Homo sapiens: one gene and its partners. The protein of the gene in region 4 purifies or fractionates together with the protein of the main gene of each other region. This does not show direct contact. Each region holds a gene or a part of one and is shown on either strand. Other genes may lie near its edges.

Region 1 (8,030 bases), on a different chromosome or scaffold from region 4:
AATATGTGAGAACAAGGAGAGATCACTTTTTACTGTGACAGATAATTTACTGGAGAGGTGAACTGCTCATGCAGAGATGATTATTGTCACATAGAGTTTTAAGATATTCAAACACTTGAGCTCACCACATTAGCAACAAAAGGTGGCTCCAGAGTTATTACAGTAGTACAGTATGTACTGCAGTTAATCTTACGCAGTTAAGACTTAATACTACATCTTTCTTTGTTTACAGTGGCACCGTGTATGGTCTGTGTTTGTGTGCCTAAGTTTTGTGATTAAATTTTAACTTTGAAATAGAATTGCATATATTTATGATAGTAAATAATATCTACATATATTTTAGCATTCATGACATACATAACTTTTTTCTAATTTTTTTGGTATTTCTAGGCTATGCGGTTCATCTGCAAGTTTTTTCAAATTGTCACAAATCTGCTGGGCATGTTGCTGTGCACCTGTAATCCTAGCCACTTGGTAGGCCAAGGCAGGAGGATTGCTTGAACCCAGGCATTTGAGGCTGTACTGTGCTATGTTCACACCTGGGAATAGTCACTGCACCTCTAGCCTGGACGATATATCCTTATATAGCAAGACCCTATCTCTTAAAAAAAAAATCATTTGGCCGGCTACTGTGGCTCATGGCTGTAATCCTAGCACTTTGGGAGGTTGAGGTGGGTGGATCACTTGAGCCCGAGAGTTCGAGATCAGCCTGGGCAACATAGTAAGACCCCTGTATCTACAAGAAATAGAAGAAAAATTAGCTGAATACCCTGTAGTCCCAGCTACTCAGGAGGCTGATGCAGGAAGATTGCTTGAGCCCAGGAAGTTGGTGGCTGCAGTGAGCTGTGGTTGCGCCACTGCACTCTAGTCTGGGTGACAGAGATCTCATCTCAAAAAGGAAAAAAAAAAAATCAAGTAAAATAAAACGTAGAACTGAAAGAAAAAACAAACCTGGCTGGGCATAGTGGCTCATGCCTGTCATCCCAGCACTTTGGGAGGCTGAGGCAGGCGGATCACTTGAGGTCAGGAGTTTGACACCAGCCTGTCCAACATGGTGAAACCCCATCTCTACTAAAAATACAAAAAAAAATTAGCCAGGTCTGATGGTGCATGCCTTTAATCCTAGCTACTCGGGATGCTTAGGTGGGAGTATTGCTTGAACCTCAGGGGCAGAGGTTGCAGTGAGCCGAAATCGCGCCACTGCGCACTCTAGCCTGGGCGACAGAGTGAGACTCCTTTTAAAAAAAAAAAAACATGCAAACCTCCAAAAATTTTTTCAGTACATTTATTGACAAGAAAAAATCTACATCAAGCTTGTCCTGTCTGTGGCCTATGGGCTGCATGTGGTCCAGGGTAGCTTTGAATGCAGCCCAACAGAAATTTGTTAACTTTCTTAAAACATGAGATTTTTTTTCACAATTTTTTTAAAGCTCATTAGCTATCGTTAGTGTATTTTATGTGTGGCCCAAGGCAATTCTTTTTCTTCCAACGTGGCCCAGGGAAGCCAAAAAATTGGACACCTCTGATCTACATAAAAAGTGGCAGTTCAGATGTGTTATTCAAGGGACAACTGTAAATACAGAAAGGCATATCCCATGGTGATCCATTGCTGTGGGGGAAAGAGGAAGGAGGGAGTGTGAGAAGGACGCTTTAAATAAAGTGATCTGGGAAGGCATCAGCATAGATAAATAGTAGTTGTAAAAAATTATCTACCTAGTAGGGACTAGGTGCAGTGGCTCACACCTGTGATTCCACACTTTAGGAGCCTGGGAGTTTGAGACCAGCCTGGGCAACATGGCGAGACCTTGTTTCTATGGAAAAAAAAAAAACACAGTAGGAAACACGTTATTGATTTGAACTTTTTCAATTAGGAGTTTTTCAGAATGAGCACTGGGTGTTTGAAGTATTTGTAATACAATTATATCTGGTTCTCATGCTGTTAACAGCTAGTCATTGAGATCACTATTTGGCGCCATGCATAGCAACATGGAATTAAGGGATGGAAAAACAGCCAGGACGTCTCTACTGTGCTGTGTAAAACAGGAGTGGCACTGATTTCTATCCCTCTCTGGGTAAGGATCAGGTAATGGAGGAAAATAAAGGAGAGGAAAGAGAAGGAAACATGATAGATTTTTATTTTGATTAAAACAAAAGTTGGTAACAGCAACTCAGGTTTCTATTAAATAAACAAAAGTTGGGAGATACTCCAAAATAACTGTTAGTAATAGCTTTAAGTTCTGACAGGCTGTGCCGACCGGAATATGATACCTAAGTTTTAAGTGCATTGAAATAGTGATTCATGTTTCCTTTTGCCTGTCTTATACCCAGCTCTTACAACTACACTTGTGTCTTAAGTATAGTGCTGATGTGGTAATAGGATATTTCTATTCAGCCTTATGCCTTTACTGTGTGTACATTCTGTCCATTTAAAAGGCTGAATTGTAAATCTTAATTTTAAAAAATTAAATGTAGTCAGTTGTCATTAATAGCCTCATGTTTCTTTTTTTTTTTTGAGACGGAGTCTCACTCTTGTTGCCCAGGCTGGAGTACAATGGTGCAATCTCGGCTCAGTGCAATCTCTGACTCCTGGGTTTATCAAGCGATTCTCCTGCTCCAGCCTTCCAAGTAGTTGGGATTACAGGCGTGCGCCACCACACCCAGCTAATTTTGTATTTTTAGTAGAGATGGGGTTTCACCATGTTGGTCAGGCTGGTCTTGAACTCCTGACCTCAAGCGATCCACCCTCCTCAGCCTTCCAAAGTGCTGGGATTATAGGCGTGAGCCACTACGACCTGACCAGCCTCATGGTTTTAATTTTCAGTTTTGTTGGCTGGAAAATGATCTTGGATGTAATATTAAATCTATCAAAACATTAAGCTGTCAATAGAAACATTTGAGAGTTTGTTTTTAAAACTGTAGTTGTATTTTAAAAATAGCTGTACAGCTTAGGAATGGGGGGAGAAGGGAGATAAAATCAGAAAATTTTCTTTTTTGTTGGCTATTTGTCTATCATCTATGATTAGTTGAAATACAGCCTAGTAATAAAAGCTGAGGATTTATAAAGTGGTAATTTGTAGCTTCTTCATCTGTTTTTTAGTGTAAAATGCAGCGAATTGGTTGCTTATGTAGGACTTCAGTAAAATAAGTGACTAGCAGCAGTAGCAGCAGCATCGAAATTTTATCGAGGTCAATTTGTTCTTGTTATCTTAAGCTGTTATCATTAAGTGCCCGGTTGTATCTTAGCATACAGAGGCGGAAAAGCAAGAGCATTCAGAATTTAGGCAATTGGCTGAGTGTAGATCAGAGTTGTCAAAGGGAGACTCTTCAGATGGGTGGCTTCATGGATACTTGTTCAGAGTCACATTTACCTTGTACCTAGTAAGAAACATAATTTGACATTTTTCATTCAGTTAAGTAGTAGTTTTAATTACTTGTAATTGTATGGTAGAATTGAAGACTTTATAAGTAACCTGTTATAATCGTGTCAGTTTAAGGTGTTGTGAAACTGGAAGCCATGCTGTCCAAACTCCCATATCTTAAATTGCATCCTGCATTTTAGGCGCGGTGGCTCATGCCTGTAATCTCAGCACTTTGGGAGGCCGTGGTGGGCGGATCACCTGAGGTCAGGAGTTTGAGACCAGCCTAACATGGTGAAACCTTGTTTCTACCAAAAGTACAAAAATTAGCTGGGCGTAATGGCGGTTGCCTATAATCCCAGCTACTCGGGAGGCTGAGACAGGAGAATCGCTTGAACACGGGAGGCAGAGGTTGCAGTGAGCTGAGATTGCGTCATTGCACTCCAGTCTAGGCGACAGAGCAAGACTCTGTCTCAAAAAAAAAAAAAAAAAAAAAAATTGCATCCTGCATTCCGCAGTTGATAACAAGGCATGTTTAAACTTTGCTCTCATACTTCGTTCTCCTCAATGTCTGATTGTGAGTGTGCTTTTTGAAAAATTCTTTTTTATTTAGGCCTAATGGGATTGTTTGAAAAACGTCGCTTCAGGAAATTCCTAGTGTATGTTGCCAACTTCGATGAAAAAGATCCAAGAACTTTTGAAGGCATTGATCCTAAGAAGACCACAATGCGAGATGTGTATAAGAAATTTGATTTGGGTCAAGACGTTATAGATTTTACTGGTCATGCTCTTGCACTTTACAGAACTGATGAGTAAGTATTTTGGTTTTTAGATTTGTATTTTTCTTGAAATTCTCACTAAATTTCCCAAGTCTTCCAAGTGGAAATTCTAACAAAACAAATACTTAGCCATATTGCACTATGAATGAAGAGGTTCTAGTTGAAATTAGTGTTGGGACCTTTTAAGTGATTTAAATATAAAGGTAGTGGGCCAGGTGTGGTGGCTCACGCCTGTGATCCCAGCACTTTGGGAGGCCAAGTTGGGTGGATCATTTGAGGTCAGGAGTTCAAGACCAGCCTGGCCAACATGGTGAAACCCCCTCTCTACTAAAAATGCAAAAATTAGTTGGGCGGTAGTGGTGCGTCCCTGTAATTCCAGCCACTTGGGAGGCTGAGGCAGAAGAATCACTTGAGCCTGGGAGGTGGAAGTTGTGGGGAGCCGAGATTGCACCACTGCACTCCAGTCTGGGCGACAGAGTGAGACCCTGTCTCAAAAAACAAAAAAACAAAAAAGAAGATAGCGGATTGAAATCGCTTCAAAAAAAATTATAAATTGAACACCATGAATGAAAACTAAAGCCCTTTCCTAATACTCATTTCCTTTCTTCCAGTTACTTAGATCAACCGTGTTATGAAACCATTAATAGAATTAAACTTTACAGTGAATCTTTGGCAAGATATGGCAAAAGCCCATACCTTTATCCACTCTATGGCCTTGGAGAACTGCCCCAAGGATTTGCAAGGTAAGAGCCTGTGTTTAAAACCTCAGTGATCCAAAACCTCATCTTCAACATAATGTGTATATGAGATATAGTTTAAATAATGAGATGAGATCAGTCTATGAGTAATAAGATGCTTTTTATTTTTATTGAAATAAAATTAACATATAATGATATGCATGGATCTTCAGTTAAAAAAAATCCAGTTTTATACAACTGTAGCTGATGTGCTCTTGTAAGTGCCAACTCCTGGCTGGAGGCCAGCCAATACAAAACCAGCGCACTTAACAAAAATACAACCAAGGACCTTCACAGAATCTACTTCACACCCCTGTTACCTCCACCAGAGTAAGTGCTGGTATCCACGCCTGAGAGACCTGGAGACAGATCACATCACAGGACTCTTTGCAGACACTCTCCAGTACCAGCTTAGAGCCTGATTATCTCCACTGGGCGGCTAGATCAAGAAGAGAAATAACAATCACTGCAGTTTGGCTCTCAGGAAGCCCCATCCCTAGGGGAAAGGGGAGAGCACCACATCAAGGGAGCATCCCTGTGGGACAAAAGAATCTGAACAGCAGCCCTTGAGTTCCAGATCTTCCCTCTGACATAGTCTATCCAGATGAGAAGGAACTGGAAAAACAACTGGGGTAATATGACAAAACAGGGTTCTTTGACACTCTGAAAAGGTCACACTAGCTTACCAGCAATGGATCTAAACCAAGACAAAAATCTCTGAATTGCCAGAAAAAGAATTCACAAGGTCATTATTACGCCAATCAAGGAGGCACGAGAGAAAGGTGAAGTCCAACTTAGCAAAACAAAAAAAGTGATACAGGATATGAATGGAAAAATTTCCAGGAAAATAGCATAAATAAATAATCACAACTTCTGAAAATCAAGGGACACACTTAGAGACATGCAAAATGCACTGGAAAGTCTCAGCAATAGAATTGAATAAGTAGAAGAAAGAAATTTCAGAGTTCGAAGACAAGGCTTTTGAATTAGCCCAATCTGACAAAGACAAAAAAGAATTTAAAAAAATGAACGCAGCCTCCAATAAGTTTGTTAAACAACCAAGCCTAAGAATAATTGGTGTTCCCAAGGAAGAAGAAGAATCTAAAAGTTTGGAAAACAAATTTGAGGGATTAATTGAGGAAAACTTCCCCGGCCTTGCTAGAGATCTAGACATCCAAATACAAGAAGCTTAAAGAACACCTGGGAAATTCATCACAAAAAGATCATCACCTAGGCACATAGTCATCAGGTTAACTAAAGTCAAGATGAAGGAAAGAATCTTAAGAGCTGTGAGTCAAAAGCCTCAGGTAACCTATAAAGGAAAACCTATCAGATTAACAGATTTCTCAGCAGAAACTCTAAAAGCTAGAAGGGATTGGGATCCTATCTTGAGCCTCCTTAAGTTATCAGCCAGTAATTTTGTATCCAGTGAAACAGAGCTTCATAAATGAAGGAAAGTAGTCTTTTTCACACAAACAAGTGCTGAGAGAATTTGCCACTACCAAGCCAGCACTACAAGAACTGCTAAAAGGAGCTCCAAATCTTGAAACAAATTCTCAAAATACCAAAATTGTATCTCCTTAAAGCATAAATCACACAGGACCTATAAAACAATAACACAATGAAGAAAAAAAACAAGGTGTTCAGGCAAACAAATAGCACGATGAATAGAATAGTACCTCAAATCTCAATACTAATGTTGAATGTAAATGGCCTACATGCTCCACTTTAAAGATACAGAATAGCAGAATGGATAAGAACTCATCAACCAAGTATCTGCTGTCTTCAAGAGATTCACCAGACACAAAAGGACTCAAATTTAAGGTAAAGGGGTGGAAAAATATATTTCATGTAAATGGACACCAGAAGCGAGCAGAAGTAGCTATTCTTATATTTTTTATTTTATAACTATATATATTTTAAAAAAAATCAGTTTGATAAATTTATAGACCTATCCCTGTCCTGGGTTTAACTAAAACCTGAGTGAAGGTATAGAACATTTTCCTCACCCCATAAAGTTCCCTTGTGTCACCTCATAATGAATACTGCCCCCCATCCCCAGCAACCACCTCTGTGATTTCTGTCACTATAGATTACTTTTGCTTGTTTTCAAAGTTCATGTAAAAGGAATAATACAATATGTTCTCATTTGTGTCTTTTTCATTTTTTGAGATTCATCCATATTGATGCATGTGTCAGTAATTCTTTTTTTTGGAGATGGAGTTCCACTCTTGTTGCCCAGGCTGGAGTGCTGTGGTGCAGTCTCAGCTCACTGCAACCTCCACCCCCTGGGTTCCAGTGATTCTCCTGCCTCAGCCTCCCAAGGAGCTGGGATTACAGGCATGCACCACCACATCCGGCTAATTTTTTATATTTAGTAGTGATGGGGTTTCACCATGTTGGTCAGTCTGGTCTTGAACTCCTGACCTCAAGTGATCCACCCACCTTGGCCTCCCAATGTGCTGGGATTACAGGTGTGAGCCATTGTGCCTGGCCAATTCTTTTTTTTTAATTGTTGAGTAGAATTCCTTTGTATGAATTATATGAGCATATAATTCTCCTTTTGGTGGACATCTAGTTAGTTTTCAGTTTTTGGCTATTATGAATGAAGGCACTGTGAAATTTTTATGTAAAACACTTTCTGTGGGGATATAGGTTTTCATTTCCTTTTGGGTAAATACTGGGAGTGAAATTGCTGACTAATGTGGCAGATAGAAGTCTGAATTCATAAGAAACTGTAAAACAGTGTTCTGGAGTGGTTGTGTCATTGTGTATACACTCAGCAGTGTATGAGAGTTCTCGTTGCTCCACATCCTTGTCAACATTTAGTATTGTAAGTTTTTAATTTTAATTGCCCAAGTGGGTGTGAAATGCTATCTCATTATGGTTTTAATTTGTATTTCTTGACTCATGTTGCTCACCTTTTCATGAGCTTATTGACCATTTGTATAATTTTGTGCTGTGATTGTTCAAGTCTTTTGCACATTTCTAAAGATTGGATTGTCTTTCTGTTTTTGACTTGTAGGAGATCTTGGTGTATGATGGTGGCAAGTCTTTTGTCATATATGTATTAAGAATATTTTCTCCCAGTTTATGGCTGGTCTTTTGATAAGCATAAGTGTTAACTTTTTTTTTGAGATAGAGTCTTGCTCTGTTGC
Region 2 (8,030 bases), on a different chromosome or scaffold from region 4:
TCAAAGATGAAATTCTTAAAATGAAAGCTCATTTCTAAGTAAGTCCATACTCTTAATAATTATGGAACCAACATGCTAAGGAAAAATTGTTAATTAATAAATCTAATTTCCATTATTGTAATCAAATTGCACTGCTCTTTAGCCCCTCATCACTGTGGTAGATCGCTTAGAGGGTAGTGAAAAAGAGGCTTAGGCTGAGCGTGGTGGCTCAGTCCTGTAATCCCAGCACTTTGGGAGGCTGAAGCGGGCGGATCACCTAAGGTCAGGAGTTCGAGACCAGCCTGACCAACATGGTGAAACCCTGTGTGCTACTAAAAATACAAAAAATTAGCTGGGCGTGGCATTGCATTCCTGTAATGCCAGCTACTCGGGAGGCTGAGGCAGGAGAATCGCTTGAACCTAGGAGACAGAGGTTGCAGTGAGCTGAGATTGAGCCACTGCACTCCAGCCTGAGCAGCAGAGAGACTCTGTCTCAATAAAAAAAAAAGAAAAAGAGGCTTAGATTCTGATATGTACACATTTATTATTTGTGAGCTTCAGAAACAAAAATCTAGTATAATTTTAATTGAAATTTGTTTTTGTTCTTGTGATATCTTAAATGCATTATTTTTCAAGCTGGCATTAAACCTTAAGGTTTATTGGATCTTATTAAATAAAAATGCAGTTTCATATTTTATATCTTAATGTTTGTGACATTATTATGGCTATGCAGGGATCCTTGAGTCTCAAATGTGTATCTTTTTAAACAAGTGATTTTTGAAGTAACTATTTTTTATCATTATTATAGAGTTAAGAATTGGCAATATATTCTTTAAAACATGGTCTCTTTCAGTAATGTAGTGTGTTAGGAAGAGGGTAATGAAGTAACGTGCCATATTTAATCAGGATGATCAGATTAGCTTCAAAAAAGTGATGTCAATTTTGTTTTGCAGAATGCTGAACTATTAGTTTATAAAATTTTACTTGAATGGTATTGATTTACTGATAGTCTTTACTGACTTATTAGTTGCTCAGACTAATGGTTTAGATTGATTTTTGAGATTCCTTTTTCTTTGTATAGTAAAGCTAATTTTCCCATTTATTTATTATAGATGTAACATTCATTTTTAATATTTATTGAGTTATAGGCATTAAGAGTATCTTAATATAGGAAATAGTCAAATCTGTTGCATTTAACCATACGGTTAACATGCTAGATAATACTGTTTACATTATTGATTTTATCTCTCTGATATTACTTATGAGATGTTGAAAGATTAAATCAATTTCTCCCATACATGCCAGCAATAATCATCATCTTCACTTTTTGAGAAAGACATATCTCATATAAACCCAGACTTCTAGAATTACAGAAGTACCTTATAATTTGACTTTTTCAGTGTAAATGCATCACAAATATTTTTTTCTTTTTTTGATGGGGTAGGGAGGTTCACTGGACTGATTTCTTCTTATAACTACCTGGCTTTGTGTAAGACTATAGATTCTTATCCAAAACCCTCAGGGCCTGGTGTATTCTATCATTAAGATTAAAAAAATATATTTTAGAAAGTAATGAAGTACATATACTGATATGTTATATGTTAGGTTAAATTATTAGCAGGGTCTGAGGAGGAACTCTAACTAAACACATTATTTCTGCAGTGAAATATATGAATATTTATGTTAATTTGGACAAACAAAGCCAGAGTGCCTTATCAGTATGGATCAGGTTTTGCTGCTAAACATGTTTTGTAAAAACTTATGGATTGCAAAGTTTTTTGAATTTTGAATTTCAGCTAATCAATTCTGAGCCTGTAATAGATTGTGTTATGTATTATAATATTTATAGGTATGATTGTTTCTACAAATAATAAAAAATATAGCAAAATTATGTATCTTTATTGTTTTCCAATTTTTCTACTATTTCAACTTTTATCTTGTAAAATATTTTCTTTGTACAGCTGCTGTATTCTCGAGGATTACTAATTGATCTTCTAATCAAATCTAATGTTAGTCGATATGCAGAGTTTAAAAATATTACCAGGATTCTTGCATTTCGAGAAGGACGAGTGGAACAGGTACTGTGCTGATCAAGAATTGTAACTGGGCATCAGCTTAAGTTATTATGGTTTGTTTTGGAAAGATAAGCAAATAAGATTGTTATTTTCCTCATAAAGCAGTAAATTCCAGTCCTCCGTGGTGATTTACAAATGTAAATGCTTAATTAAAATTTCTAGTGCTAATTTTCTCATGGCTTACTCTGCAGCTTGGTGTTGGTACCAAGCAGCACACAAAAAACCAAAAAGCACACCAGAGTTACTATACCCAAGACTAGTCACACAAATCCTTTTCTCCCATTAATCAAGATTTTGGAGAGGGAAAAGAAAGAAACGGTGATTTTTGCTGTCCACTTGATCAGATTCCACACAGAGGAGGAGGCCCGGAGCCTGGTTGGGAAAAAATTCTTACCCTTATGACAGCTGATCAGATCCTGGGTTCTTCACTGCAGCTTCCAGAAGAGCAGAGCTTTGCTATCCTGCTCACAGCACCAAAACTGTAGGGGCCAAGGGAAACACTCCCTCTTAAGCCTCTGAAGTTTCACTGAAAAATCAACTCACAAAGGCAGATTAATTGGAGAAAAGGCATAAAAATGTACTAACATGTACATAGGGAGAACCACAGTGTTTGTTTTAGATAGCACTGCTAAATTTTTCTCTGTTAGGATGACATGCCGTTGGCCTTTTAATGGCATGGGGAGTAACTTGGCAGAATTAAGTAAGAAAGCTCACAATTAGCTCTGAAGTTAGCAGAGATGCCATTAGTACTGATGGACGGTGATGTGAAAAAGCCTGGCTAGAGTGGAAACGATAATCCTGTTATATGTAAAGGGGAAAAAAGTGTAATTTGGAATAGTTATATCATTAGGAAGCAGTTTCTTAACTTAAAATCATAATATTTTTCAGGTTCCGTGTTCCAGAGCAGATGTCTTTAATAGCAAACAACTTACTATGGTAGAAAAGCGAATGCTAATGAAATTTCTTACATTTTGTATGGAATATGAGAAATATCCTGATGAATATAAAGGTATTTTTTTCATTAAGTAGTGCTCTCCAATTATTTGACATTTCTTACTATTTTAATATGCTTGCTCTGATTTAGTGAGCCACTTATTACTGTTTTAAAATGCATTCTAACTCTGCACTATCAATAGGTTAGCCATTAGTAACATTTAGCTATTTAAATTTAAATTAATTAAAGTGAAATAAAATAAAATAAATTCAGTTTCTCAGTCTTATTAGCTGTATTTCAAGGGCTCCCATAGCCCCATGTGGCTACAGTGCAGATATTTTCATTGCTGAAGTGGCATGCTAGATTTTAATTTTTATTCTTATTATTTAAATACTACTGTCAACTGGCTCTTCATAGATGATAATCTGTTTTCATGATTCCATTATTTTTTCTCATAAGTAAAAATACTATATATTTTATCATTTTCCAGGATTGCTTTTGCATAGAATCTTGAACTATTTCGTTTGAAAAAAAAAGGCTAGATGGTATATGGGGAAAAATACTGGATTCAGAAAAGGCATGGTTTCTATTCTTGGCTTTGACCTATTTCATTATGTGATCTGGGGCCAGTTACTTCATTGTCTGTTAAAAATTGAATATGCCATTTTAGTGTCAGAGCTATATACTTTAAGTCCATTGGTCTGAAAATGTTATCCAAAATTGGAATATACTATTGATAATTTATTTATAAAGTTACAATGAGAAGTGCAGCGATATTTTTTTTCCTCTGTGAAATAATGAAAGTCTAATCCTTGCTCTTAAAGCTTCAAGTCTACTAGGTACTGTCATGTTGTTATCCACAGTGGCTGTGTAAAATTCAATTCTCTCAGTAAATTTTCATAATTTTTATTTATGTAAATTATTTCTGTAAAGTTTTTGTCTTTTATCATGGGATTTATTTCCCACCACTAACAGTCCAATTACATTATATTCTGTTCTTGGTTTAAAGGAGTAACTTCTGGGGGTCCCGTATGTTTTGATGTGATTATGTGGCCATAAGACTGATTCCAGTAGCCACATGGAAATTCATTTCATTATTTTTTAGTTTATTTTCTGAGTATCAGTGAGAAGTATACGTTTTACAAAACTCACATATTTATCATTTTAAATCAATACATTCCCATGTTGTCATAGTTGTTTAATATTTTCAGTACCATTATTGGCATTATCCTGCAGGTTTCATGATAATAAAGTGAGATTATTGCCAACTATGACAACCCATTGAGTTATTTAATATTTTCTAGTTTTTTTTAAATCCATGAAATGCTCAATCATAATTCATCATTTAAAGCTAAAAATTGTGCCATTACTCCAAATAAGAGAGAGAGATTGTTTCCATTTTTTCCTAAGATCAACCATCAGTGTCCAAAATGTAATACCACCTATGTCCTTTGTGAGGTCTGTGAAACACACTTCATCTCCTTTTTGTGGGGTGGTTTTAAATAGAAGTTTAGTTCTGATTTTAAGTGATAAAATTTCATCTTTTCATAGGATATGAAGAGATCACATTTTATGAATATTTAAAGACTCAAAAATTAACCCCCAACCTCCAATATATTGTCATGCATTCAATTGCAATGACATCAGAGACAGCCAGCAGCACCATAGATGGTCTCAAAGCTACCAAAAACTTTCTTCACTGTCTTGGGCGGTATGGCAACACTCCATTTTTGTTTCCTTTATATGGCCAAGGAGAACTCCCCCAGTGTTTCTGCAGGTAAGTTTGCCATTGATTTTCTTGTCCCTTCTAAAAGTGATACTTGAATAACAGATGAAAATTAGGCAGGCAAAAATGAGATTTATTCAAGATTTAGTATATGCAAATATATACTTTATTCTATTTATTTTTTATAATCTATTTACCTACCTATCTACCCACCTAAGTGATATATTCAGTGTGGCCTCTTTTTGAGCTTGATAAAAATACTATAAATTCCTTTTTCCACTCAATAGCATGATGGAAAGTATTGTCATTGCATATAATTTTAGTTAATTTTTTATTACTATATAGTATGTTATTGTGAATACACCACAATCTATTTTTTCATTTTTCTGTTGATGAACACAGGATGTTTCCAGTTTTTTGAGGTTAACACCCTTGTGTATGTTTCAAGTTGTGTATGTTCAAGAATTTCTCTCGGAAACATATCTAGGGGTGGAATTCCCCAGTCCTGAGATACATGAATGTTAACACTTTACAACATCGTGTTCAGTTATTTCTCTAGAGGGCTGTACCAATTATAACCTTTTAGCCGTACATAAGAATACCCAAAGCTTTACATGTTTGCCAACATTTAAAATTTTTTTGTCAACCTAACTCACATAAATTATCATTGCATTGGATTTTTATTTTTCATTTCCCTAATTACCTATGAAGTTGAACCTTTTCTCATATGTTTACTGGCCATTCATGTTTTATCTTCAGGGAATACTTGTTTGTGTCTTTTTTTGTTTGTTTTACACATTTTTAAAAATTTTTATTTTTTGTGGGTACATAGGAGGCATATGTGTTTGTGGGGTACATGAGATAGTTTAATACAGGCATGCAAAGTGTAATCCATCATGGTAAATGGAGTATCCATCCCTTCACACATTTATCCTTTGTGTTGAAAACAATCCAATTATACTCTTCATTTTAACATGTACAATTAAATCATTATTGACTGTAGTCACTCTGTTGTAATATCAAACACTAGATTTTATTCATTCTTTCTAACTACGTTTTGTACCTATTAACCATTCCTACTTATCCGCTGCCCCCTCAAAACCCGCCCCAGGCTCTGATAACCATCCTTTTACTCTCTGTCTCCATATGTTTAATTGTTTTAATTTTTAGCTCCCGCAAGTAAGTGAGGATATGCATTGTTTGTCTTTCTGTGGCTGGCTTATTTCACTTAATATAATGACCTCCAGTTTCATCCATGTTGTCATGTTGTTGCAAATGTCAGGGTCTCATTCTTTTGTTTTTTTTTTTTTGGGAGATGGAGTCTTGCTCTGTCACCCAGGGTGGAGTGCAGTGGTGTGATCTCGGCTCACTGCAACCTCTGCCACCCAGGTTCAAGTGATTCTCCTGCCTCAGTCTCCTGAGTAGCTGGGATTACAGGCACGTGCCACCACACCTGGCTAATTTTTGTATTTTTAGTAGTGATGGAGTTTCAGCATCTTGGCCAGGCTAGTCTTGAACTCCCGACTTTGTGATCCACCCATCTCAGCCTCCCAAAGTGCTGGTATTACAGGCGTGAGCCACCATGCCCAGCCAGGATCTCGTTCTTTTTATGGCTGAGTATTACTCCAAGGTGTAACTGTACTACATTTTCTTTATCCATTTATCTGTTGCTGGGCACTTAGGTTGCTTCCAAATCTTGGTTATTGTGAACAGTGCTGCGACAAATGTGGTATGTAGATATCCCTTTGATACACTGATTTCCTTTCTTTTGGGTATATACCTAGCAGTGGGATTGCTAGATCGTATGGTAGCTCTATTTTTACTTTTCTGAGGAACTTCCAAACTGTTCTCCACAGTGGTTGTACTAATTAACACTCCCACCCACAGTGTTCAAGGGTTCCCTTTTCTCCGTATCTTTGCCAGCATTTGCTAGTGTCTTTCTTTTGAATAAAAGTTATTTTAACTGGGGTAATAAAATATCTCATTGTAATTTTGATGTGCATTTCTCTGATGATCAGTGATGTTGAACACCTTTTTATATGTCTCCTTGTCATTTGTATGTCTTCTTTTGAAAAATGTCTATTCAGATCTTTTGCCCAATTTTTAGTCATATCATTAGATTTTTTTCCTGTAGAGTTGTTTGAGCTACTTATATATTCTGGTCATTAATTCCTTGTTAGACGGGTAGTTTGCAGATATTCTCTTTCATTCTGTGGGTTGTCTTTTCACTTTGTTTATGGTTTCTTTTGCTGTGCAGAAACTTTTTAACTTCATGTGTTCCCGTTTGTCCATTTTTGCTTTAGTCGCCTGTGCTTGTGGGGCATTGCTTAAGAAATCTTTGCCCAGACCAGTGTCTTGGAGGTTTTCTCCGATGTTTTCTTGTAGTAGTTTCAAAGTTTGAGGCATTAGATTTAATTCTTTAATCCATTTTGATTTGCTTTTTATATACTGCAAAAGATAGGGGTCTAGTTTCATTTTTCTGCATACAGATATCCAGTTACCCCAACACCCTTTATGGAAAAGACTGTCTTTTACCCAGTGTATATTCTTGGCACCTTTGTCAAAAATGAGTTCACTGTAGGTGTGTGGATTTGTTTCTGGGTTCTCTATTCTGTTTTTTTGGTTTATGTGTCTGTTTTTATGCCAGTACCATGCTGTTTTGGTGACTATAGTTCTGTAGTATAATTTGAAATAAGGTAATGTGATTCCTCCAGTTTTATTATTTTTGCTCAGGATAGCTTTGGCTATTCTGGGTCTTTTGTGTCTCTATATACATTTTAGGATTTTTTTTATTTCTCTGAAGAATGCCATAGATATTTTGATATAGATTGCATTAAATCTGTAGATTGCTTAGCATAGTATGGACATTTTAACAATATTGATTCTTCCAGTTCATGAACATGGAATAGTTTTCCATTTCTTTGTGTCCTCTTCAATATCTTTCATCAGTGTTTTATAGATTTCATTGTAGGAATCGTACACTTCTTTGATTAAGCTAATTCCTAGGTATTTAATTGCATTTGTGGGTATTCTAATTGAGATTACTTTTTAAAATTTCTCTTTTGGATTCTTCAGTGTTGACATATAGAAATGCTATTAATTTTGTATGTTGATTTTATACCCTGCAACTTTACTAAATTTGTCAGTCTAATAGGTTTTTGATGGGGTCTTTAGGATTCTCCAAATATAAAATTATATCATCTGCAAACAAGGATAATTTGACTTCTCTCAGCCTCTCCCAGTGGCCACCACAGCCACTGGTCAACTGGGAGTTCTGCCAGGCCACCCCTGATGTTCACTTAAACCCCAAGTACCC
Region 3 (7,689 bases), on a different chromosome or scaffold from region 4:
TTTAAATATGTTACTTCATTTTCTTCTCACATAAAACATTGCAGTTGAAGTCTGATGACAATCTGATTTTTTTTTTTACTAGACCACTTGGTGTTGGTCATTCTGGGTTGATACTCTCAAGTTTGCAATGTCTTTTTTTCAATATCTACTTTTTAAGTATTTTTTTTTAAGTTTTCTTGATTTCTTTTGTTCCCTTTCGTTGGTCTTCATCTATAAGAACTGCTATTACTCATATTTTGGGTCTTTGCTCATTTTTAGTATTTGTCACTTTCTCCCTTTTATTTTTTTTTAAAAAAAGCAATCCTTAGGTTTGACTCTGATCTTTTTCTCATTTCTTTTTAATTTTTATTGCTAATTCTTTTTGGTGTCTAATTTCTGAATTTTCTAATTCTGATTTAGGTTATTCTTTCATGTCTTGTATCTTTTTGTTTTGTTTTGTTTTGAGATGGAGTATCGCTCTATTGCCAGGCTGGAGTGGAATGGCGCCATCTCGGCTTCCTGCAACCTCCTCCTCCCGAGTTCAAGCGATTCTCCTGCCTCACCCTCGCGAGTAGCTGGGATTACAGGCGCCCAACACCATGCCTGGCTAATTTTTGCCTTTTTAGTAGAGACGGGGCTTTGCTACGTAGGCCAGGCTGATGTTGAACTCCTGACCTCAGGTGATCCGCCCGCCTCAGCCTCCCAAAGTGCTGGGATTACAGGCATGAGCCACCGCGTCCGGCCTCTTGTATCATTTTCTTTTTTTTTTTTTTTTGAGACGGAGTCTCGGTCTGTCGCCCAGGCTGGAGTGCAGTGGCGCGATCTCGGCTCACTGCAAGCTCCGCCTCCCGGGAGCCTCCTGCCTCAGCCTCCGAAGCAGCTGGGACTACAGGCGCCCGCCACCATGCCCAGCTAATTTTTTTTTTTTTGTATTTTTTAGTAGAGACGGGGTTTCACTGTGTTAGCCAAGATGGTCTCGATCTTCTGACCTCATGATGCGCCCGCCTCGGCCTCCCAAAGTGCTGGGATTACAGGCTTGAGACACCGCGCCCAGCCTTGTATCATTTTCTTAAAGACTTAGCTCACTCTGCAATAGGATGCAGTTTGATTTGCTTCCTGGGCACATTTCTGGCATGCTTTCACTGTCTGATATTGTTCTATTCTTTATTCTCTTCATGTGAAATTGATTTTTCTAAATTTTTAGAAGGAAGTGTGGTTCAGGATTGCTTTTCTGATTTCACGTACTCCTCAAACGTTTGACTCCCATTGGACATCCTTCCTTCTGCACATTCATTTTTGCATGGTAGTTTTTTCATATAACCACCCTAAAACTCAGCTTGGCAAAGATAAAATGTCATCAAAAGGAATGTAGGGCAGTCCTATTGAAACTGAGCTCTACATCAAGCCCAGAGCCTGACAGGTGTCAAACGTCACTGTTTATTTCACATTTAAAATATAAAATATACCATGGTGTCCCTGTGAGTTTGCTGTGGTTCCCTGGGACACGTTAGCTCACAATTTGGGGATCACAATCCCAGGTGATGCTGATATTGCTGATCAGGAGACCACACTTGGATGTTTGGCTGTTTTTTGTTTGTTTTCCCCAAAAAACCTACAGGAAGTAAAAAAAAAAAGTACAAGAAGAAAGACTTTCAAAACTTGTACTGCCAGCCATGAAGAAAATTTCTTCCTTTGGACCCATGTACTCATGTATTTATCAATTAAAATGAAATTATTGAAATCAGTTTGGAAACAGTTGTATATGTGTGTATTTGTGGGAGAGCATGCTTGCTTGCAGATGCACACACACCTGCTATGTTTGTTGGGAAAATTAGTATGTGTTCATTTGCTGTAGTCTAGCTTTCTTACTGGAGGGAAAAACTACTTTGAGTAGACAGGAAGGAACAAAAAAAGCATGCTTGCATCCTCATTGACCTTAATGTTCAAGGACATTTGGTGGTAAATAATTGAATTTCCTTTGTAACCTGCCACAGTGAATTTGATTGACTGCTAGTTTGAGATGTGATTGATAAGCCTGCCAAATTTTATAAAGAAAACTTTATATAATGTTTACATTTATAAAATGTTTATGTTTTATAAAGAAAACTTTGTATCTCTCAAGAGAGGGAAATCCAGATTGCCTGGTACCAGCATTTATCATACAGAGAATCTTGGATGTTACTCCCAGTAAAATGTGCCCCTAATTTATACTATAATGAAAATAAAACATAGTTGACCTCTAAAAGAGCAATCAACTGCTTTCAAGTGAACTGCCACATAATGCTAATTAGTTGAAGATTATGCTCTGTTCTCCTTAATGAATTATAAAAAGCAAAACACTAAAAATTAACTCGGGAAGACAAAGTAACTGGTGCTTCCTGCATTTTTCCTTGTTCTTTGTCTTTCTAGGATCCCAGGAAATGTGGGCAACTCATGAGAAGGTAGTGCCCTGGATGGAAGTTAGCTGAACAAAATCAGCTTACTCTAAGCCCTTCTGGCCTCAGCCCCTTTTCTGGATTTTAAGAAATCCAGCAATTGATACAAGATTATAGAGTATACCACTCAGTGAAGTTCAGAGTTCTACTACAGAAAGCCCAAGCCTTGATTTACACTTAACATCTAGGAGAAATGGGAAAGAATCTAGCCATTACTTTCCCCAACAGAGGGATCTGTATAGATGAGATGACCAGCGTAGCAAGCAGCCTGCTATTACCTAATCTCTCACCCAGGATTAACATTAACATGGGCTTTCTAACATTTCACTTTTTACAAACTAGTCTTTAAGATCTTTTTTTTTTTTTTTTTTTTGAGTCTCGCTGTGTCACCCAGGCTGGAGCTCAATAGAGTCACCTCAGCTCACTGCAACCACCATCTCCCTGGTTCAAGCAATTCGCCTGCCTCAGCCTCCTGAGTAGCTGGGATTACAGGCGCACACCACCACACCCGGCTAATTTTTTATGTTTTTGGTAGAGGCAGGGTTTCTCCATGTTGGCCAGGCTGGTCTCGAACTCCTGACCTCAAGTGATCCACCTGCCTCAGCCTCCCAAAGTACTGGGATTACAGGTGTGAGCCACCATGCCCAGCCTAGTCTTGAGGTTCTTAAGATATATAGAAAAAGGAATGTAGATTTTGTTAAGCCTTGCTCTTTTTTTAAGACTGGTTTTATAAATTACAAAGACAAATCCTAGGTTAGAAGAGGCCATCAAGATCAAAGTATTTCTTCCTTAAAAGGATGAGTTTTCATTGTTAATCAGAGGCTAGTTTTAACGGTAGTACTTAAATTAACTGTCCTAGTAGAAAGCTGGAACCTGGAAACTCCTTTATTCTGCCTCTGTAGAAATGGCTTTATACGCCGGGCGTGGTGGCTCATGCTTGTAATCCCAGCACTTTGGGAGGCCGAGGCGGGCAGATCACCTGAGGTCGGGAGTTCCAGACTAGCCTGACCAACATGGGGAAACCCCATCTCTACTGAAAATACAAAATTAGCAGCGGGTAGAGGTGCATGCCTGTAATCCCAGCTACTTGGGAGGCTGAGGCAGGAGAATTGCTTGAACCTGGGGGTGGAGGTTGCGGTGAGCCGAGATTGTGCCATTGCACTCCAGCCTGGGCAACAAGAGCGAAACTCCATCTCAAAAAAAAAAAAAAAGAAAAAAGAAATGGCTTTATACACTATTATGGCAACAATTGAGCTCCTGGTTTCGGTGGACAGTAAATGTTTATCTTACAGTTGTGCTGGGCGAGAAGTCAGGAAAAGGAGCTGAGTGTGTAACTGTGATTTCCTTTTCCGTAGTGTGTTCCATGGGAACCGGTACAAGCAGACTCTATAGTGCTCTCGCCAAGACACTGAACAGCAGCGCTGCCTCCCAGCACCCAGAGTATTTGGTGTCACCTGACCCAGAGCATCTGGAGCCCATTGATCCTAAAGAGCTTCTTGAGGAATGCAGGGCCGTCCTGCACACCCGACCTCCCCGGTTCCAGAGGGATTTTGTGGATCTGAGGACAGATTGCCCTAGTACCCACCCACCTATCAGGGTTATGCAATGGAACATCCTCGCCCAAGGTATGCTGGATGCTTTTGTGCCTCTGCAGTCAAGTTTGCTGTGACTGCCTTTCTGCTTCTGCACATCCACAGTGCACTGTTTTATGTGGAAGGAAGAGGTGTGGGCAGATGGAGGTGACTGCAGCAGCATGGAGAGCTCCTAGAAGAGGTTAAGACAGGGAATCATCTGGTTTTCACTTTTTTTTTTTTTTTAGAAAGAAAAAAGACACTTTAATTGTTCTTGGATAGTCTACAAACATGGAAGGTGTAAAGAATAAACCACGAGTTACTTGCTTTAATTGTAAAAACCAAGTCAGGTGCAGTGGCTCACACCTGTAATCCCAGCACTTTGGGAGGCCGAGGTGGGTGGATCACCTGTGGTCAGGAGTTCGAGACCAGCCTGACCAACATGGAGAAACCCCGTTTCTACTAAAAATACAAAATTAGCCGGGTGTGGTGGCGCATGCCTGTAATCCCAGCTACTCGGGAGGCTGAGGCAGGAGAATCGCTTGAACCCAGAAAGTGGTGGTTGCAGTGAGCTGAGATTGCGCCATTGCACTGCAGCCTGGGCAACAAGATCGAGGTTGCAGTGAGCTGAGATTGAGCCACTGCACTCCAGCCTGGGCAACAGAGTGAGACACTGTCTCAAAAAAATATGTATATATATATATATATATATATACACTTTGTTACAGTAGTAAGGACTTCTTTCCTGGGTCTGCCAAATTAAAAAACAGATGTGTCAATCAACTCTATGTAGCATTGCCTTTTATGTAAGCAGTTGAGATTTTAAGAAAAACAAGGGCCTGATTTTTTTTTTTCCTGGAAAATAAGGGGAGATTCCGTGACTTACCAATCTTTGATTCTTTTTCCCTAAGTAGGAAAAGCTGCCTATTTAAAATAAGTTCCATTCATTCTGAGTAGTGTCCATAATAGTCAGGGTTAAAACTAATACTTGGTGTTAAATATTTGGTGTTTAAAAAAACCAAAAAAATTTTAAAAGAAAATTGGCATTTATTTCATTTTATATAGCTTAGATCCCTGGCACTGCAAAGCAGTTTCCTTAAGTAAGATCTTAATATCCTGGAATATAGTTAACATGAAATCATTTCGAAACAAAAGATCTGTTGTTTGCTTCATCCACATAGTGAGAGGTGATTTAGTTTGGATGGGGTAATACAGTTTGGACAGAGAGCCACTCCAAGCATTTAAAGCAGAGGAAGCATTCTGAGGGTCTTGAGTGATGCCAAACCTCCTGGGTACTTTGAAGTCACGGTTTTGTAAGAGCTGACAACTGACTAGCTTTTTCTTTTCAGCTCTTGGAGAAGGCAAAGACAACTTTGTACAGTGCCCTGTTGAAGCACTCAAATGGGAAGAAAGGAAATGTCTCATCCTGGAAGAAATCCTGGCCTACCAGCCTGATATATTGTGCCTCCAAGAGGTGGACCACTATTTTGACACCTTCCAGCCACTCCTCAGTAGACTAGGCTATCAAGGCACGTTTTTCCCCAAACCCTGGTCACCTTGTCTAGATGTAGAACACAACAATGGACCAGATGGTTGTGCCTTATTTTTTCTTCAAAACCGATTCAAGCTAGTCAACAGTGCCAATATTAGGCTGACAGCCATGACATTGAAAACCAACCAGGTGGCCATTGCACAGACCCTGGAGTGCAAGGAGTCAGGCCGACAGTTCTGCATCGCTGTTACCCATCTAAAAGCACGCACTGGCTGGGAGCGGTTTCGATCAGCTCAAGGCTGTGACCTCCTTCAGAACCTGCAAAACATCACCCAAGGAGCCAAGATTCCCCTTATTGTGTGTGGGGACTTCAATGCAGAGCCAACAGAAGAGGTCTACAAACACTTTGCTTCCTCCAGCCTCAACCTGAACAGCGCCTACAAGCTGCTGAGTGCTGATGGGCAGTCAGAACCCCCATACACTACCTGGAAGATCCGGACCTCAGGGGAGTGCAGGCACACCCTGGATTACATCTGGTATTCTAAACATGCTCTAAATGTAAGGTCAGCTCTCGATCTGCTCACTGAAGAACAGATTGGACCCAACAGGTTACCTTCCTTCAATTATCCTTCAGACCACCTGTCTCTAGTGTGTGACTTCAGCTTTACTGAGGAATCTGATGGACTTTCATAAATACTTGCTTTTGTCTTTTTAATCACAGGAGTCTATTTTTTTTTTTTTTTTTTTTTTTTTGAGACAGAGTCTCGCTCTGTTGCCTAGGCTGGAGTACAGTGGCCTGATCTCGGCTCACTGCAAGATCCGCCTCCCGGGTTCATGGCATTCTCCTGCCTCAGCCTCCAGAGCAACTGGGACAACAGGCGCCCGTCACCACGCCCAGCTAATTTTTTGTATTTTTAGTAGAGACGGGGTTTCACCGTGTTAGCCAGGATGGTCTCGATCTCCTGACCTTGAATCACAAGAGTCTTAACAGGGAATGTTTCAGGAAACAAATAGGATAAGACAATGCCAGAGGAAGGATAGAAACATGGGAAGTTTCTATCATTTCATTTTCTGCGTTTCCAGCATGCCCTTGGAAAAGACTCCCTTTAGTCCCTTTTTCAATTAAAACCTATGGTGAAAAAGGCGTTTGCACTCCAATTTTGGCTTGTGTTGTTTTCTTTTCCTTAATATTACATTTTGATCATTTAAGGGCATTAAATTGGCTTGTTTTGGTCAGGTGTGGTGGCTGCTCATGCCTGTAATACCAACACATTGGGACGCCAAGGTGGGAGAATCACTTGAACCCAGGAGTTCGAGTCCAGCCTGGGCAACATGGCACGAGACCCCATCTCTATTTCTAAAATAATAATAAATTCGGTTATTTTGAAGCTTTTTCAATTTGAGGATGCTATAAAAACTTAGACTTGTTGCTTGAATCTTCCATAATAGTATGTAGGAGCAATTTCTCTAAACAGCATTTTAAGTTATTTATTTGTGGGTTTTTAAAATGTCAACAAAATGCATGGCAGTATTTATTTTTTATATCTTCATATAAAATTAAGTAAATTATAGCATTATGAACATTTTAGAACCATGCAAGAGAAGTTATAGAGAAAGTAATTTATGGTGATTTTCATAAAGCTTTAAAATATTTTCATTTGGGCTATAACAAAATGAGTACAAAGGAACTATTTAGCCTGGAGGGGCTTTTGTTATTTAAATGTCAGATTTCTTTGATACATTCTTCAAAAATAATCCTTGTCCTGCCTCTATGTTCCATTATTGTGTTTCTTTTTTTTTTTTTTGGAGACAGAGTCTCACTCTGTTGCCCAGGCTGGAGTGCAGTGGTGTAGTCTCGGCTCACTGCAAGCTCTGCCTCCCAGGTTCACACCATTCTCCTGCCTCAGCCTCCCAAGTAGCTGGGACTACAGGCGCCTGCCACCACGCCCGGCTAATTTTTTGTATTTTTAGTAGAGACGGGGTTTCACCATGTTAGTCAGGATGGTCTCAGTCTCGATCTCCTGACCTGGTGATCTGCCCGCCTTGGCCTCCCAAAGTGCTGGGATTACAGGCGTGAGCCACAGCGCCCGGCCTTATTGTGTTTCTTGAAGAGATTCCAATTAGTTTTCAATTATTTAACCAATTAGTTTTCATTATTGCTGTTATATTTAAACTTTACCATTGGAATAATATTGGTATGCGTTTGATATTA
Region 4 (8,030 bases):
TTATGGCAAAAATCGAATTTGTGCCATTATTATTTTCATTATTCTCATCAAAATTCAATTAAAGATCACTTAAAGAGCCAGAAGAAAGGACTGAAACAGTGGCAGCTCAGAAATAAGAATCCTAAACAAACAGAACTAAGAATCAGAGTTCAACCAAATGAGTATCTGAGTCAGGAAAAAAATGAGTTTAATTTGAGTATCTTATAATTAGACCTATCCTTTTCATCAAATGCCAAACAGACAGCATAATGGAAATAAAAATTATAAGTGATACAAACCATTTTTCTGTTGAGTTTTGTCATTATATCTCGTGCAAGTGTAAAAAATGCCTATAGGTAAAACAAAACATTTTCATTATTATATATTCACTATATATATGTATATATATATATATACACATATATATATTCCCCCCGCCTCAGAGATGGGGTCTTGCTATGTTGCCCTGGCTGAATTGGAACTCCTGGGCTCAGGCAATCCTCCCACCTCAGTCTCCTAAGTAGCTGGGACTACAGGTGTGAGCCACCATGCCTGACTTATTTTAAAACAGAAATACAGAATTTTTCATTATTTCAATATAAATATACCACTTTAAAGCTTTACATTAAGAAAGTAATAATTGTAATCATAGTATGCATGTGTTTACTCTTTTGAGATTGTATCATAAACATTTTCCAATGTTATCAAACTATCATTCATTCATCAAATATTTTCTTCATGTGATATAATATCACAATAACACCCTTGTTGAGTCACGAGTAACTTCTTCAGTACACCAAGAACAGGACAGAAGCTCTGTCTAAGCTACCCCACTTCCCTAGAGCAGGGCACAGTGCTGATCTAGGAAATGCTGACTATCTGGTTTAATGAGTGAATAAATAATTATGTATTACCCTATAGCTCTAAAATGTCTTCACAAAAATCTCTACTTTTTATTTCTGGCTTTTTCTTTCAAATTGCTCTCACTCTTATAGCTGAATATGTATAATCTTCCATGTCTTACTCCAAAATCCCAACAGTTCCTGGAGCTCTCGGCTAAATTCCCCACCATGGAAGTCAGTTCGAATAGAAGCAGGGCAAATCTGATTAATCTTCGTGATAATTTATCCATAATGTCTCTTGATACAAACCAAATATTTTTTAAATCCATCATCACTTTTTCTATGAAGCCAGGAACTGTTAAAGATTCTTCATTTGTCACCATGCTAAACCTATTGTTAAATCAACCTCTTTGTTCCCAACACTCCTGATCCCCAAAAACTGTTCAGGAAAAGGATTATTTCCAATCCAATCAAATAAAAACAATACGACAACTACTATTATTACTCATTGTCAGTGTCTCACTGTCAAACTTGTCACCTATGAGCCTAACCACACTGATTTAAAGCTCTGGCAAAGTTGTTACCATCTGTATGCCTTGCTAGAATAAGCAGCTCAGGCAACTCCCAGTTCAGGGAGTTCTATCCATACTGTTGCAAATTATGGGATTTCACTCTTTTTTTATGGCTGAATAGTATTCCATTGTGTATACATACCACATTTTCTTTATCCATTCATCCACTGATGGACACTTAGGTGGATACACTGATTCCCTTTCTTTTGGGTAAATACTCAGTAGTGAGACTGCTGGATCATATGGTAGTTCTATTTTTAGTTTTTTTATTGTTCTCCATAGTGGCTGTACTAATTTACATTCCTACCCACAGTATATGAGGGTTCCCCTTTCTCTACATCCTTTCCAGCATTTGTTATTGCCTATCTCTTTGATAAAAGCCATTTTAATTGGGGTGAGATGATAGCTCACTGTACTTTTGATATGCATTGCCCTGATCACTACTGATGTCGGGAATTTTTTCATATACCTGTTGGCCATTTATTTGTCTTCTTTTGAGAAATGTCTATTCAGATCTTTTGTCCATTTTTAACTTGGATTATTTCTGATGGCGGGAAATCCTTTTGTATCAAGCAGAGGGAAGCATTTTTCTGCTTATCTAAGCTTGTGTAAGTAAATCAGTAGAGGCTTCCTGTTTCCTAACACCCATCGGCCAACCTAAACAAATAACTGTTACGTTATTTAAAACAAAGAAAAAGTTCTGATCAGTGTCCACTGGCTAATAAAGTCATGTAGGTCTCGATTTTTAACCATCATGTTATGATGAACAATGAGTAACCTAGGAAATTAAATGTTTATGAAACTATCAGTATTATTAAAAGAATTACATGTATTAACACATATCACATGTAAATTACACGTATTATTTTTATGATCAGTTGAAAAAATGTTTTTTAAAAAAAATAACAGTTCCCTTGGTGAAGAAAACCTATTATTTTTTTTTTTTACACTTTAAGTTCTGGGATACATGTATAGAACATGCAGGTTTGTTACCTAGGTATACACGTGCCATGGTGGTTTTCTGCAACCATCAACCAGTCATCTACGTTAGGTATTGAAGAAAACCTATTCTCATAAGACTTTAGATGGTTTGGTTTTCCTTAACAGCTAACTTAATGAAAATTTATTAAAGCTACTCCCTGATAAACACTTTCCTATTTCCACTAAATGCCACTGTTACAATTTATTGTGCTTAATCTACCTCAAATGTGTACGCTAAAGGAATGTGTCCAATAAACTAACAGCTTAATTCTCCCTTGAGAGAGTACAGCCTTAAAAGTGATTTAACTCTTCTGCTGCAGGCATACAGGGTGACATGAATGAGCACAGGATACTGGTTGGTCTTCTAGTCCAGGATTTCCAGCTGCCCAAAAAAAGGGCAAAACTGAACTTCCATAATCTATTCTGTGAATCTTAACTGAGCAAGCTAATATAATCCAGGTGGAGGCTAGATGCTAGAAATTCAACAACCAGCGTCTACATAAAAATCAGAAGCAGCTGGGTATGGTGGCTCACGCCTGTAATTCCAGCACTTTGGGAGGCCAAGGAGAGGGGATCACGAGGTCAAGAGATCGAGACCCTCCTGGCCAACATGGTGAAACCCCGTTTCTACTAAAAATACAAAAATTAGCTGGGCGTGGTGATGCACACCTATAGTACCAGCTACTCGGGAGGCTGAGGCAGGAGAATCGCTTGAACCTGGGAGGCAGAGGTTGCAGTGAGCCGAGATCATGCCACTGCATTCCAGCCTGGCGACAGAGTGAGACTCCATCTCAAAAAAAAAAAAATCAGAAGCACAAAAGTGTACAAAGTAGAGTTGGGTCAACAAAAGGCATTCATTAGGTCAGAAAATACCAAAGCTCTGAGAGCTGTTTGAACACAGGCCCCTAAGCACTGGTGCTGCTCCGTAACAGTCACCAAACGTTTCCTTCTTACCTCTTCTACATTTGCACTGGATTTTGCGCTTGTCTCCAAGAATTTAATCCCATAGTCAATTGCTAGCTGAAAAGTAAACAGAAATATTTAAATTTAGCAAAAGATACTTGAACACATAATGCATTTGTATTTCTTAGGTTTTTCAAAGTCTCAAAGGTAGGGTATCTATTTCAGAACTCCTGTGGTTCTCAAATTTCTTTGCTTTCTTCTACTGTATTCAGAATTTAATAATTTAACTTAATCATCGTAAGAAGGATGGCACAACTTCCATTTCAAACATAATTTAAGGCCGGGCATGGTGGCTCACGCACTTTGGGAGGCCGAGGCAGACGGATCACGAGGTCAGGAGATCGAGACCCTCCTTGCTAACATGATGAAACCCCGCCTCTACTAAAAATACAAAAAATTAGCCGGGCGTGGTGGCACCCGCCTGTAGTCCCAGCTACCCGGGAGGCTGAGGCAGGAGAATTGCTTGAACCCAGGAGGCAGAGGTTGGAGTAAGCCGAGATCGCACCACTGCACTCCAGTCCAGGTGACAGAGCGAGACTCTGTCTCAAAATAAATAAATAAATAAAATAATAATAATAATTTAAGTACTTCTCTTTTTTTCTGTTTTTGTACTTTTAGTTCTCTAATATGGGATAAATACCCACCCTCCTAAGGTAGCAGAATAGGGTCTGGAGGCAGGGAACCTAAGGCCAATTCACATTGACTTCCTAGAACTAAATCAAAAGAAAAACCCCAGCCTTCCATGCCCAAGTAACAAAAGTACAGGGGTTACTCCCTTTGCAACCTCCTCCCCTTTTCTGACTCACAGATTAAAAATGGAAAGTACCTCTGATTGGTCCCCTCCCACAACCAATCAGACGTCTGCGCAGGGTATAACTTTGTAACTTCATTTCATCCTTTGATTGGTCACCTTCTGCAACCAATCAAACTGGTCATGGGCCACTACTTCATTTACAGAGTGTAAACCAAGTAACCCATGGGAAATTTCTAGAGGGTATTTAAACCCCAGAAAATTCTGTAACCAGTGCTCAAGCTGCTTGCTCAAGCCCACTCCCACTCTGTGGAGTGTACTTTCATTTCGATAAATTTGTGGTTTTGGCTTCATTCTTTCATTGTTTGTGTGTGTGCATTTTGTCCAATTCTTTGCTCAAAATGCCAAGAATCTGGCTGACTTGTAGTCAAGACCCTCCACTGGTAAAACTACCATTATCTTGGGATTCATTCACTCCTTTTATCTGCTCCCAAAGTTTAATTCTCCAACAGTTACTGTATTGACTTTTAGGCCGGGTGTGGTGGCTCACGCCTGTAATCCCAGCACTTTGGGAGGTCGAGGCAGGCAGATCACCTGAGGTCAGGAGTTAAGAGACCAGCCTGGCCAGCATGGTGAAACCCCGTCTGTACTAAAAATACAAAAATTAGCCTGGTGTGGTGGCAGACGTCTATAATCCCAGCTACTTGGGAGGCTGAGACAGGAGAATCGCTTGAACCAGGGAGCCAGAGGTTGTAGTGAGCCAAAATTGTGCAATTGCACTCCAGCCTGGGTGACAAGAGTGAAACTCCATCTCAAATAAAAAAAAAAAAAACTATACTTACTTTTAATTACTTTTTTTTTTTTTTTGAGACACAGTCTTGCTCTGTTGCCCAGGCTGGAGGAGTACAGTGGCACTATCTCAGCTCACTGCAACCTCCGCCTCCTGGGTTCAAGTGATTCTCCTGCCTCAGCCTCCTGAGTAGCTGGGACTACAGACGCACGCACGCCACCATGCCCGGCTAATTTTTGTATTTTTAGTAGAGACAGTGTTTCACCATGTTGGTCAGGCTGGTCTCGAACTCCTGACCTCGTGATCCACCCACCTCGGCCTCCCAAAGTGCTGGGATGACAGGTATGAGCCACTGCGCCAGGCCTTAATTAATTTTAATAAATGAGTCCAGAATTGAACAAAAACTTAAATACTAAAGTATTCATGCTTTGATTTCTATTGATTGAGACAAATTGCGAACTCTTATATATTCCTCAAAAAGTTCCTAGTTCATTTACAATGCTAAAATTAAGTAAATGTTTTTAGGGGAAAAAAGTTTGCAGCAAAAGTTCACAGTCAGATTGAAAAACAAAATGTGGCTGGGCATGGTGCCTCACACCTGTAATCCCAGCACTTTGGGAGGCCGAGGCAGGTGGATTGCTTGAGGCCGGGAGTTCAAGAGCAGCCTGGCCAGCACGGCAAAACCGCGTCTCTACTAAAAATACAAAAATTAGCCGGGTATATGTGTGTGGTGGCACATGCCTATAATCCCACCTTCTTGGAGGCTGAGGCATGAGAATTGCTTGAAGCCAGGAGGCAGAGGTTGCAGTGAACTGAGATTACGCCACTGCACTCCAGCCTGGGAGACAGAGCAAGACTTTGTCTCAAAAAAAAAAAAAAAGAAAAGAAAATGCATTTTGCATATATAATTTTTTTAAAGGCTAAAGCAAAATTCCAAGACTTAAAAAGTGAAGCTTCTAAGTCAATTTAGAATCTGTCACAGAAGTAAATATGTACACAAAATATTCCTTTGCTTTACAGGACACAAAAGAGAGAAATGCCCATGCCCATAAACAACATATAAATGACATCCATAGCTTGATCAGTTACAAGGAATTTATCCATAAAACCTAACGCTAATGTGTAGTAAAATATTCTTAGGGAAAAAAATGAATTGGAAAATGATTCCTGTTGAAACTTCACCTATCCCTATAACTTCTTTTTCAAAAAGAATGTTTACTTTAACTTCAAAACTGGGCATTTTCACACAGATCTGGAAGAAACAGCCTGAACTCTAAGCTGCAGGAATCTGAGAAAGGACCAATTTGTATCTCCCAGAAAACATTAGCAAATTCTTTAGGAATGAGTCATGACCACACAGTATAGAGAGCTGGATCTCGAATACTAATTCACACCATTCAAGTATGGATTACATCTCTTTGTTGTTGATATCCAATTTAAAGGGATTAAAACACAGATTTTAAAAAAAATCAATAATTAAATAATATGAAGAAAAGAAATGCTTAATGTGAGTAGATTCCAACCTTTATCCATTCCATTCACATTTACCTTCTCCCCTCTTTCTTTTGACACTTGTCTTTTGTCATTCATATCACATTTGTTACCCAGGATCATTCTTTCGACATCGGAAGAGGCATGCTGCAGGGAGAAAATAGCATGCTATAAAAACAGCCTGAGAAAAACCCGTTACTTAATAGACAAATCCAACCTGTCAGAAACACATGAATTTAATAAGACATAATCTTTTACTCACACAAGGCCTAATTCAGAGAAAAGTTTAAAGATGGGAAGAGGGGCAAAGCTACAGTACAAGAGCCCTCACAGAGCCTGTGCAAACCTTCTTCCCGAGGTTTGGAAAGAAGGTGGAACAAACACAAATAAAGCTTATGGTGATCTAATGACAAAATTTCCAAATATTCAGGTCAAAGAAGGACAAAAACTTGGTACTGAGTGAACCAGTGGAGATGGTATTCTAGATTCTGTACTATTTTAAAAAGAAATTCATCTAAGTTTATAGAAACGTGTACAAAATTATTTCAGAGTCAGATTTCTTTCTTAAGTGACAAAGACATTAAAAAAATCTTAATACCAATTATCCTGGAATTAAAACAATCTTCAAATATCTAAGATGGAGAAAATGTCAGAAGGGCAAAAAGTTGCCAAGGTAAAGAGATAATTGTTGCTAGCCAAACAGCATGGTGGGATAGAAGCTGGGAACCAGATGTTTTAATCCTGGCTCTTCTTTTTAAAGGCTGTATGAGCACAGGCAAATCACTTCTTTCTGTTCTCAGTTATTCATGTGTAAAATGTGATCTAGGATTAAATTATTTCCCATATCTGGCCCAAGCTTAAAATCTTGTGACGTTACTTCTCTGTCCCCCTAACCCCCAGTAGTCAGACTGGCAGCACCAGAGATTTATGGAGCTCTTCAGAGAGAGAGGGCCCAACCTGCCCATGCCCTGCTTCTAAGCAGCTCAGCTGCCTTGCAGACAGAGGAGCCTTTTACAAGCACCCAGCAGGACTCTTCTCCAATGTCACCATTCTCTTTCCACACATACCTCTTCAATGTTTCTGATCCAATTTTTAATATTGTCAAAGGATTTTTCATTTGTGATGTCATAGACCAGCATAATGCCCTATAAGGGGGAAAAATATCTTTATTTAGTACTTTATATATTTAAAGTTATAGTATATAATGTCAATGTACTCCTACCCTCCAGAAACCTTTTGTTTGTCCATTTTTTCCCTTTAAAAAGGGTTCATAATAAATTTGAAAAGTACAGAGAAACAAAAATCAATAAATACTTATTCCACTGGTCTCACCATGTAAATAAAAACCCTTTTAACATTTTCACTGTTAACCTTTAATGAATTAGTGATCGTGGTAAAGGTGATACACCCTTTCTACCTGACCTCACATGATAACAATCAGCCCCAATTGGAGCTGAGTGTTAAGTCAAAACAGCGATAACATTGAGAGTAAGAGTTAATCACTTCCACTGTGCACTTGTTTATTCCAAGTAGAAACTATCTTGCTTTCTACTCTTCTACTAAGATTGAGACCACACTGCTTTAAAATTATTTTTTATGTAGGTTGATCAAAAAATAGGTTGTCACTATTTATCTAAGTACATCACAGACACTTAAAATCC

The links.
Region 1: the proteins of RAB8B (region 4) and GDI2 purify together in Homo sapiens (affinity purification with mass spectrometry; 3 studies listed by BioGRID and IntAct, with this or other methods). This does not show direct contact.
Region 2: the proteins of RAB8B (region 4) and CHM purify together in Homo sapiens (affinity purification with mass spectrometry; 2 studies listed by BioGRID and IntAct, with this or other methods). This does not show direct contact.
Region 3: the proteins of RAB8B (region 4) and NOCT purify together in Homo sapiens (affinity purification with mass spectrometry; 2 studies listed by BioGRID and IntAct, with this or other methods). This does not show direct contact.

What each region holds. Positions count from the first base shown.
Region 1 is NC_000010.11:5,781,990-5,790,019, reverse strand, and holds part of GDI2 (rab GDP dissociation inhibitor beta), read left to right. Parts: intron 1-3,969; coding exon 3,970-4,168; intron 4,169-4,746; coding exon 4,747-4,878; intron 4,879-8,030. UniProt on the Homo sapiens protein: GDP-dissociation inhibitor preventing the GDP to GTP exchange of most Rab proteins. By keeping these small GTPases in their inactive GDP-bound form regulates intracellular membrane trafficking.
Region 2 is NC_000023.11:85,952,888-85,960,917, reverse strand, and holds part of CHM (rab proteins geranylgeranyltransferase component A 1), read left to right. Parts: intron 1-1,940; coding exon 1,941-2,057; intron 2,058-2,942; coding exon 2,943-3,063; intron 3,064-4,539; coding exon 4,540-4,765; intron 4,766-8,030. UniProt on the Homo sapiens protein: Substrate-binding subunit of the Rab geranylgeranyltransferase (GGTase) complex.
Region 3 is NC_000004.12:139,039,305-139,046,993, forward strand, and holds the end of NOCT (nocturnin), read left to right. Parts: intron 1-3,769; coding exon 3,770-4,039; intron 4,040-5,334; coding exon 5,335-6,170; 3' UTR 6,171-6,635; downstream 6,636-7,689. UniProt on the Homo sapiens protein: Phosphatase which catalyzes the conversion of NADP(+) to NAD(+) and of NADPH to NADH. Shows a small preference for NADPH over NADP(+). Represses translation and promotes degradation of target mRNA molecules.
Region 4 is NC_000015.10:63,254,991-63,263,020, reverse strand, and holds part of RAB8B (ras-related protein Rab-8B), read right to left. Parts: exon of another isoform or gene 7,515-8,030; coding exon 7,437-7,514; intron 6,517-7,436; coding exon 6,427-6,516; intron 3,395-6,426; coding exon 3,329-3,394; intron 330-3,328; coding exon 279-329; intron 1-278. UniProt on the Homo sapiens protein: The small GTPases Rab are key regulators of intracellular membrane trafficking, from the formation of transport vesicles to their fusion with membranes.